2 separate regions of the Homo sapiens genome follow, and region 2 is linked to region 1. Evidence: fine-mapped expression QTL. A gene starts in region 1. The other region holds a variant in brackets. All regions are shown on one strand. Distances are from middle to middle. Region 1 holds the start of TLR6 (toll like receptor 6). Region 2 overlaps TLR6 (toll like receptor 6).

Evidence for each region. PIP is the estimated chance that this variant, and not a neighbour inherited with it, causes the effect.
Region 2: its variant is fine-mapped to the expression of TLR6 in monocytes after LPS (Quach 2016, PIP 0.91).

Annotation. Positions count from the first base shown.
Region 1 is chr4:38,854,701-38,860,087 of GRCh38, reverse strand. TLR6 (toll like receptor 6) reads left to right here and starts at 3,271. Exons shown (of 2, transcript NM_006068.5): 1 at 3,271-3,327. RefSeq lists an enhancer at 1,623-2,822.
Region 2 is chr4:38,828,295-38,833,681 of GRCh38, reverse strand. It overlaps TLR6 (toll like receptor 6), which reads left to right. Exons shown (of 2, transcript NM_006068.5): 2 at 4,145-5,387. The coding sequence starts at 4,209. Among named protein-coding and RNA genes, the nearest start is that of TLR6, 26 kb to the left of the region's middle. RefSeq lists an enhancer at 2,046-2,215. The variant T/C (reference allele first, on the strand shown) is at 2,226.

The DNA.
Region 1 (5,387 bases):
TATTTATTTATTATCTGGAGAAAGACAACATTTTTTAACAAGTAAAAGTCATCAAAATAATGTTTTGCCTGTGTCTGTATTGGGACAGTGTATTGGGTGGCCTCAGATTATGTTTATAATACTTAACCCAGTGTGACACTATTTTTTAAAAATTAAGACATATATACATATCTATATATAGTGAAGAATTCAAATAGGACAAAAAGCATAAAATGGTGAAGAGGCCGGGCGGGGTGGCTCAATCCTGTAATTCCAGCACTTTGGGAGGCTGAGGTGGGCGGATTGTTTGAGCCCAGGAATTCCAGACCAGCCTGAGCGACATGGCAAAACCCTGTCTCTGCAAAAAAATATAAAAATTAGCCATGCATGGTGGTGGATGCCTGTGGTCTCAGATCCTTGGGAGGCTGAGGTGGGAGAATCGCCTGAGTGGGGAAAGTCAAGGCTGCAGTGAGCTGTGATCACGCCACTGCACTCCACCCTGGGCAACAGAGCGAGACCCTGTCTCAAAAAAAAAAAAAAAAAGGCCAATAATCTATTTCTCTTAGTTCTTCTGCTCAAAGGTGAACATTTCTTATGTATCTTTTGAGAAAAAAAGATTCATATGCCTCTATCAACATATGTATGTAGACCCTTGTATTAAGTTTCCTGTGGCTACCATGACAAATCACCACAGACTGTGTGGCTTAAAACAACAAAAATTCATTCTCTCAGAGTTCTGGAGGCTAGAAGTTCAAAATCAAGCTGTTCATAGGGTGATGCTCTCTCCAGCCTCTGGTGGCTCCAGACATCCCTTGCATTGTGACTGCAATACCCCAGTCTCTGCCTCTGTTTGCAAATGCTCTGCTTCTCTGTATCTCTCTTCTCTGTGTGTCTTATGAGGACACAGGGTGTCTTCTAAGGCAGCATAGTATGATGCTTAAGTGCATAGGCACTGGGGCCAAACTGCCTGGGTTCGAATCCCACCCCCACCACTGACCAGCAGTGCAAGCTGGAACGATTACCCAGCTGCGCTAAGTGGAGATGACGTGACAGTACTTATCTCACAGCACCTTAATGAGTTAATACTTGGAAAGTAGTCACAGCAATGCCTGGCAAGAAGATAACCTGTGTAAATGGCTAGATTTTATACAATTGATGTCATACTCTTCTTACAGTTCTGCACCTTAATTTTCTTTCTTTCTTTTCTTTCTTTCTTTCTCTCTTTCTTTCTTTCTTTCTTTCTTTCTTTCTTTCTTTCTTTCTTTCTTTCTTTCTTCCTCTCTCTCTCTCTCTCCCTCTCTCTCTCTCTCTCTCTCCCTCTCTCTCTCTCTCCCTCTCTCTCTCTCTCTCCCTCTCTCTCTCTCTCTTTCTTTCTTTCTTTTTTCTTTTGAGCCAGAGTCTCACTCTGTTGCCCAGGCTGAAGTGCAGTGGCACAATCTCAGCTCTCTGCTACCTCTGCCTCCTGGGTTCCAATGATTCTCCTGCTTCAGCCTCCCGAGTAGCTGGGAGTACAGTTGCCTGCCACCATACCCAGCTAATGTTTGTATTTTTAGTAGAGACAGGGTTTCGCCATGTTAGCCAAGCCGGTCTCGAACTCCTGACCTCTGGTGATCTACCCACCTCGGCCTCCCGAAGTGCTGGGATTACAGGCATGAGACATCGTGCCCAGCCTGCACCTTGATTTTCTTCACTTCATAGTATATCCTGAAATCTTTACCCCTCAGCATACAAAAAAACTATATGATTTGCACCAAACTCCTTACTATTATGACTTCTCTTCTGTGTCAGTCACTATTCCAGCCACTTTAAATTCATTATCTTTCCTAAAAGTACTCCCATTTTGTGGATGAATAAATGGAGGTTAAGGGACTTGTCCCAAGCCTCACAGTAAGTGGCCAAGTGGAGGTTCGGCCCAGTACTGTCTGTTTCTTTGTTTGCTTAACTGTCATTGCCATCTTCGCTATTACTTGATTTTTGTGTTTTTGTCATCCCCTTACAGACGTTTCTGAGTTATGACAGCCTCGACAAGAATAGTCTCCTTGTTTCTGAACATTGGTGTTGTGATGCAATCTCCTAATGAGACATGTCAATGTGCCCAGATCTGCAGTGATAGTTGTCTGTTTTCTTAAGACTTTAGTCCACGGTTACTTGAAATTCCCTCAGAGCCACAGCCAGCCCTTTCCCTTGGCTTGTTTCACAAATCTGGTTTTCCAGGGTCACAGATACCTGCTGCTTTCTGGCTGTCTCCTTTTGCCAGTGGAGCAGAGATCCATCCACTCCTTACTGAGCCTCCCCAGGCCTGAGGAGACTTCCTGTTATGTTTGATGAGTAAGGATGAATCACAAGAAGCCAGCCTTTCTCTTCCTCCTGAAAGCAGAAGTGATTCTTACGGAGATGTCCAACTTTGTCATTAGCCAAATTGTAAGGTCTTAACTTGTTGTTGTTTTTTTTTTAATAAAGATGAGATTGTGCCAGACAGTGAGATAAATTATAGAATGATTGTTTCACTCATGCCTTCTGTCCTTTGCAGAACTCAGTTAAGCAAGAAGTCTGGGGAAAAGGGTTTACTGTCCACCAGAAGTCTCTGTTTAACCAGAGACTTCTGGTAATCAGCCTTTGTTGATGTCATTCTGAAATTCTTCTAAATGGTCTTTAGAAAATTGATTTTTAAATTAGTCTTGCAGGATTTCAGTGTTATTTATTATTCCTAAATTAAAATCTAAACCATTTAATAACACCAAATGTTGATCAGAATGTGGGTATGATTGCTCGTACATATGGCTAAATATGTAGTCATAAATATGTATCAACCAGTAAACTTTCCTTAGAAGTTGATTTTTAAAAAAAAACCCAAATTGTGGAACTATACTTATTTTATTTTAAACTATCTCATCCAGCTAAAATAATGCTCAAAATTGCTTGATAAGGGAAACTGCAATTATTCTTGAAATGTTAAATATGGTGATAATAGAAAACAGGCTGTTTAAAATAACTTTCCACTCAGGTGACAAATGTAATAACCAGGCTGCAAACTCTTACAGAGAAATATTACCTTAGAAAAATATTTTTCTTCACATTGAATTGTTTGTAAGTTGCTTCCTCACACGAATTAGAAAATTGGATTACTGGTTTTGTCTGTAGCCCAGAAAAAACTGCTAACTCACCTCCGGACCTTTGAAAGGTAAAAATATACGTAGGAGTAATTCCAGTGTGGGCCAACAGATGGCACCAATCTGTTTCTAAGGTACCGCTTTACTCAACTTTAAGAACTTGTGTTTGTCAAGCATTTTCAATTGTATTTCCGTTCATTTACAAGTTATTTTCTCTTCTTCTGAAAAAGAGATCTTGGTAAGTAGAAAGACTTCTGTGGCTTTTTCACATTATGGCACAGGTGCTTCAAGTAAGCAAGTTTGCTAACCATTCATTATATAGGAAATAGGTAATGTTTCCTTGAAATTTTTGCAAAATGATTTGAAGTGGTTTTTTTTGTAGATGTTGCAAATGTCCTTTGAATTTCACGAGCAGGATGAAGAGCAGCGTCTTTACAGCTGTCTTGAAAAGATAGAAAACAACTAGCGCTTGTGGTGATAATTAAGGAACAAAACTAATGTTATTTATTTCTTCTGATTTGGCCCAGCGAATTTTCTCTTTTCGTCTTTCTCTAGTTTATTGTTTTCAGTAACATTTAACAGTAATTTTTATATACCACTGATATGGCACCTATTTATTATATGTTTTTACAGCAGACGTGTGTTTGATCTCCCTTGTCGTTTGTCACTGTAACAGTTTGCTGGTCTGTGTCTGTCCCTAATTCATAAGCTTTTTGAAAGCAGGAATTATGTCAGTCCTATTCATATTTATATCCCTGGTGCCTAGTGCGTAGCATGGCACTGGCAGAAAAATAGACTCTGAATAAACATTTATTAAATGGAGGAAGTGGCCGGGACCAAGCCCCTTCACAAGCTTGAATCTGGCACAGTGTAGCAATTGCCTTCCTCCAGGTCCTTCCACCTTCAGTTTGACAAATGAAACAATGTTTTTCTTGCCTATTTGTTAACTTGATTATGTGATCTTTCCTCCACTTATTTCACTTAATTTTTTTTCTGCTCTCTTCTTCCTTGTAGTTTTAATTTTCATAGGTCTTGTCTACCCTTTTTTTCTGAAATGTAGCTTATTTCATCTATTTCCTCACCCTTTTTATTTGATGCATTTAAAAAATCAAGAGCATTTACCTGTTTATTTTTACTTTCTTTAAAAAACTGTGAACTCTCTAATCTTCCACTCTCATCTTCCCATTTTTCCCTCCTTTTTTCCCAATAAATAGAAAAGTTACTATCTTGTTCATTTAGTGTATTCCCTAGGAACTGCCTCAGGGTATGAACGCCTCTGGAGGAATATTGCGTTTTTGTGGCAGGATACCATAAGGACAGCTGACCAGCTTTTCCACCTGGTGACTGATTTTCAGTCCCATGAACCCAGACACCGTGGGTCTGGTTGCCGGGGACCTGTAGGGTAGGTCCTCATCTGTGAATGCCAGTTATCTACTATTATCTGAAAGTTCTCCATCTTTATATTTTAATATTCCAAATAAAACAAGCACGTTTCTTTAAATATAAAATATTTTCACACAGCTATAAAGACAACTCTTAAATTGCCTTACGATAACTTTTTTGGATTATAAAGGACATTCAAAATGAGACATTTTAGGGATATCTGAAAGTATAAGAAAGAAAATTAAATTCATCTATAATTCAGAGATTCAGAGAACCACTATTATTAGTATTTGGTATATTTCATCACATTGTTTGTCCTCTAGCTTTTACGTATATGTCAGGTTTTAATCATATTTTGCAAAATTAGAGTCTTACTACATATATAATTTTTTTTTTTTTTTTTTGAGACGGAGTCTTGCTCTGTCGCCCAGGCTGGAGTGCAGCGGCACGATCTCGGCTCACTGCAAGCTCCGCCTCCCGGGTTCACGCCATTCTCCTGCCTCAGCCTCCCGAGTAGCTGGGACTACAGGCGCCCGCCACCACGCCCGGCTAATTTTTTTGTATTTTTTTTTAGTAGAGACGGGGTTTCACCGTTAGCCAGGATGGTCTCGATCTCCTGACCTCGTGATCCACCCGCCTTGGCCTCCCAAAGTGCTGGGATGAGAGGCGTGAGCCACTGCGCCCGGCCATAATTTTCTATTACTGTATTCATTTAACATTATCATTTTTTCAAAGTACAGTATTTGAGGCTATTATTTAATTATACATAACTGATTTAATCATTTTCTACACTAGACATTCTGATTTTTTCAATATTTCATTATGTCATGAGTATCCTTATAGTCATATCTTCTGTGTGTTATTTTTGACTATTTCTTTAGAAAATTCCTTGTAGTGGAATTGCTAAAATAAAGG
Region 2 (5,387 bases), 26 kb after region 1:
AATTATTGTGTTCCTTTGGAGGCTTCATGTTTCCTTGCACTTTTGTATTTCTTGTGTCCTTATGTTGATATCTATGGATCTGATGTAATAGCTGCTGCTTCCAATTTTATGGATTGGCTTTGATAGGGAAAGACTTTTGCCTCTAGGTGTTTTTATAGTGTTAGTTGAGTATAGGGTGCTTTGGCTTTGATTCTGAGTGGGCACAGCAGTGTAGTTTCTGTATGATTTCTTCACCTGTCATCAGTGTCAGTGGCATTTGGGTTCCTCAGTGGCTTAGGTTACAGTTGTCAGCAGACACTATGGCAAGGCTTTGCTGGGGATGGGGACACCAGGCAGGCCTGTTCTCAGGCAACAGTGGTGGCAGCAGTGGCCTAGGCTTGCCGGTTCTCAGGCCCCTGTGTGAAATATGTGGGCACTCGTGGTGATGGGTCCTTGAGCCTCCAGGAGATTTAGTTGGATGCTTGCAGTGGCAGTAATGGACCAAGTGGGAGGGCAGGTTCTTGGGCCCCTGCACAATTTGTGTGGCATTAACTGTAGCAGTAGGAAAAGTGGACCAACCCTCTGGCCCCCAAGTGGTAGACACAGGCAGCAGCAGGCTGGGCAAGCCAGTCCTCAGGACCCCGTGTGGCATGCATGTGCCACACCCTGTGTGGCACTGCCCTGCCATGGCAGTGGCAGGCAGGCACTAGCAGCAAAGGGCATGGTGGACCTGTCCTCAGGCCCCTTGGAGGCATGTGTAGATGTGTCGTAGTCCTGCTGCTAGGGAAGATGGGGTTGCTGTAAGTGGCGGTGGCCCTGGGCAGGTAACTCTGAGGCTCTGGGGAATGCACACTTTGACTCCCTTTGTCCCAGGGAAAGCCACTAGGTGCACTGTGCTTCCTGTTTCCTGGGATGCGGGGCATTGCATGGGCTAGAGTGCTGGGGACCTAGCTGCACTGCTGATCTTAGCTGGCATTACAATGCTGTAGCCCTCTAGGTGGACGTAGGAGAATATCAGTGGGGCTTCAGGGGTGTGGAGATTCAGGGTTGTTGGGCCCCAGAACAGGATGTGTATGGTGAGGGCTGGGCTCTTAAAAGAGCCTTATGCTGAAGCTGTTTGGGTCTCAGGGTATGGGGTATGTGGGACCCAATGTGAAGTCCCATTGTGGAACAATGTGATTGCATATATTCCAGACAGCCCCAGGGCATGTGAAGGCCAAGGAGCTAGCTCATGGCTAGGATTACAGGAGTCCATAGTGGAAACATTGACCTCTGAAGATCTCTCAGTTAAACTTTCCCTGGAATGGGAAGTTCCTCCTGGTTCTGAGCTAGTCCCAGCTGGGCTGGCTGCTTCACTTCCCTCTTCTCCCATGCCTCAGAGGTGCACTGTCACTTCTCCGCTGAATTCCAGTGTTCTCTCTTAGATGCTCATTCAATGTGTGATTATCTGCTCACTGTTTTGGTCCTTCTTTGCAGAGGGGGTGAGGGCTAGGTGCCTCTATTCAGCCATTTTAATGCTTCTCCGGCTCATTTTTTAATTGTTCAATAGTATTTTATTGTGTGAATGTACCAGTTTGTTAATATTTTTATCTATTGAGGGATATCTTGTTGCTTCCAATGTTTGACAGTTATGAATAAAGCTTCTATAAACATCCACATGGAGGCTTTTATGTGGACATAAATTTTCAGTTCTTTTGGTTAAATACCCAGGAATGTGATTTGCTGGATTGTGTGATAAGACTATGCTTAGTTTTATAAGAAACTGCATTCCATAGTGGCTGCACCATTTTGCATTCCCACAAACAGTGAAAGAGAGTTCTTGTTGCTCCACATCCTCACCAACATTTGATGTTGTTTTTGGATTTTACCCATTCTCATAAGTGTAATGTAATTTCATTGCTGTATTAATCTGCAAAACCATGATGAAATATGATGTCAAATAGCTATGTATATGTGTATTTGCTCTTTACATATCTTCTTTGGTGAGGTGTCTGTTTAGATTTTTGTGCCCATTTAAAAACTAGGTTGTTTGTTTTCTTATTGTGGAGCTTAAGAGTTCTTTGCATAGTTTGGATACAAGTCCCTATCATATATGGGTTTTGCAAATATCTTCTCTGAGTCTGTGGTTTGTCTTTTTCACTCTCTTGCAGTGTCTTTTGCAAAGCAAAAATTTTAATTTTAATGAAGTCCAACTTAACAGTGTTTTCTTTCTTGGATTATGTTTTTGATGCGTATCTCAAAAGTCA[T/C]CACCAAATCCAAAGTCACCTAGATTTTCTCCTATGTTATCTTCTGGAAATTTTATAGTTTTGCATTATACATTTAGGTCTATGGTTAATTTTGAGCTGATTTTTGTGAAAACTGTAAGGTCTGCGTCTAAATTCTTTCTCTTCTTCTTCTTTTTTTTTTTTTGCATGTGGAGGTCTAATTGTTCCAGCACCATTTGTTGAAAAGACTATCCATTCTCCACTGAGTTGCCTTTGCTCGTTTGTCAAACAGCAGTTGATTATTTTTTTGTGGGTCTATTTCTAAGCTCTGTATTCTGGTCATTTGACCTATTTGTCTATTCTTTCACCAAAACCACACTGCCTTGATTGCTGTAGCTTTGTAGCAAGTCTCAATGTTAGGTGGTGTCAGTTATCTGGCTTTGTTCTTTTAATTTCTTTTTTTTTTTTTTCCTGTGAATGAACAATACTTTCTGTTTCTTTGCATGGCTAATTTTTTTAAACAAATAAATTAGAGATTCCTTTAATGCCAAGTTACACAATCAAAAAGATAACAATCTCTTTCCATTTGCTTTTTGCAAGGTTTGTGTTATTTCAGGGCAAAACGTAGAGCAAGTCCACTGGCAAATCTGGGGGCTAGTGATTATTTTGTTTTGATTTTTATTTTTTTAAATCAGACATTTTAAACACTACAATGAGGTAACTCTAGAAATCAAATTCTGTCCCCCTTTCCCAGAGGTGTTTTATTTATTTATTTATTTATTTTTTGACAGGGTCTCATTCTGTCACCCAGGCTGGAGTGCAGTGGTGTAATCACAGCTCATTGGAGCCTCGACTTCCTCGGCCCCAAACAATCCTCCCACTCAGCCTCCCAAGTAGCTGGGACTATAGGCACACGCCACCATGCCCAGCTAAGTTTTGTATTTTTTGTAGAGATGGAGTTTCACTATGTTGCGCAGGCTGGCTTTGAACTCCTGGACTCAAGCAATCCACCTGCCTTGCCCTCCCCAAGTTCTGGGACTATAGGCTTAAGCCACTGTGCCGGGCCTCCCTTTCCCAGGGTGTATTGTTGCTTCTTGTGGCTTATAGTTGCTTGTTTAATGACTTTTCTAAATAATTTTTATAAAGATTATTCTTTGTCATGTGTGGCTATTACATTTTCTGTCCAGTTAGCTTAGTGGTCAGCCAGTAACTTGAGATTTCTTTAAACATCTGGAGCAAAAACAAAAACCAAATAAACTAGCAAAAGCAAAAACAAAAACACCCCTGATCTTTGCAGGTTGGCTGTGTTGGATCACTTTCTCAATGCTTAGCCAGTCTATTCACAGCTCTGCTTTAGCCTTCACTTTCTGCATGCATGGAAGCTAAAGATGAGCCAGAGGTGAAGTTTAGGATTTTCTCAGGTCTCCTCTGAACATGCGTCCAGCCTTGGGCACGTGAGTGGACTTCTGGACTCCCTGGTATATACAGAGATTTCCTCAGCCTTTTTTCTCCCACATATCTTTCTCCATATATCTTTGCATATTTCCCAGACTTTTTGATGTGTCTGCTGCTTGCCCCCTCTGTTAGCCCTTGCTCAGGTGGCTGCAGCTAGTATGTTTGCCTTTAATTGTTTACAGCAAACACCAGCCAGAAGGCTGTTCCAGCCCTGAGAAAGTTCTAAGGTGTACAAAACAAAGGCAAGCCCCTGAGTGTGAATCCCTCAGGCAGCAACCAGACAGGTCAAAACACACAACCACAATTCTTTGATAACAAGGCCTATATTGCCCCTTCTGGCATGAGCAAGCTATATAACTGGTTATAAAAAGTATTACATTAAATTATGGGGACAGAAATGACTCTACTAGTGAATGAAGAAATCATTTAGATTTTATGGTTAGTAAGTGGAGGTTTGAGAGTAACCATCCGATCTTTATTAATCTTAGTGTATATTATATTTCTAGAATTTGGACTCATATCAAGATGCTCTGAAGAAGAACAACCCTTTAGGATAGCCACTGCAACATCATGACCAAAGACAAAGAACCTATTGTTAAAAGCTTCCATTTTGTTTGCCTTATGATCATAATAGTTGGAACCAGAATCCAGTTCTCCGACGGAAATGAATTTGCAGTAGACAAGTCAAAAAGAGGTCTTATTCATGTTCCAAAAGACCTACCGCTGAAAACCAAAGTCTTAGATATGTCTCAGAACTACATCGCTGAGCTTCAGGTCTCTGACATGAGCTTTCTATCAGAGTTGACAGTTTTGAGACTTTCCCATAACAGAATCCAGCTACTTGATTTAAGTGTTTTCAAGTTCAACCAGGATTTAGAATATTTGGATTTATCTCATAATCAGTTGCAAAAGATATCCTGCCATCCTATTGTGAGTTTCAGGCATTTAGATCTCTCATTCAATGATTTCAAGGCCCTGCCCATCTGTAAGGAATTTGGCAACTTATCACAACTGAATTTCTTGGGATTGAGTGCTATGAAGCTGCAAAAATTAGATTTGCTGCCAATTGCTCACTTGCATCTAAGTTATATCCTTCTGGATTTAAGAAATTATTATATAAAAGAAAATGAGACAGAAAGTCTACAAATTCTGAATGCAAAAACCCTTCACCTTGTTTTTCACCCAACTAGTTTATTCGCTATCCAAGTGAACATATCAGTTAATACTTTAGGGTGCTTACAACTGACTAATATTAAATTGAATGATGACAACTGTCAAGTTTTCATTAAATTTTTATCAGAACTCACCAGAGGTTCAACCTTACTGAATTTTACCCTCAACCACATAGAAACGACTTGGAAATGCCTGGTCAGAGTCTTTCAATTTCTTTGGCCCAAACCTGTGGAATATCTCAATATTTACAATTTAACAATAATTGAAAGCATTCGTGAAGAAGATTTTACTTATTCTAAAACGACATTGAAAGCATTGACAATAGAACATATCACGAACCAAGTTTTTCTGTTTTCACAGACAGCTTTGTACACCGTGTTTTCTGAGATGAACATTATGATGTTAACCATTTCAGATACACCTTTTATACACATGCTGTGTCCTCATGCACCAAGCACATTCAAGTTTTTGAACTTTACCCAGAACGTTTTCACAGATAGTATTTTTGAAAAATGTTCCACGTTAGTTAAATTGGAGACACTTATCTTACAAAAGAATGGATTAAAAGACCTTTTC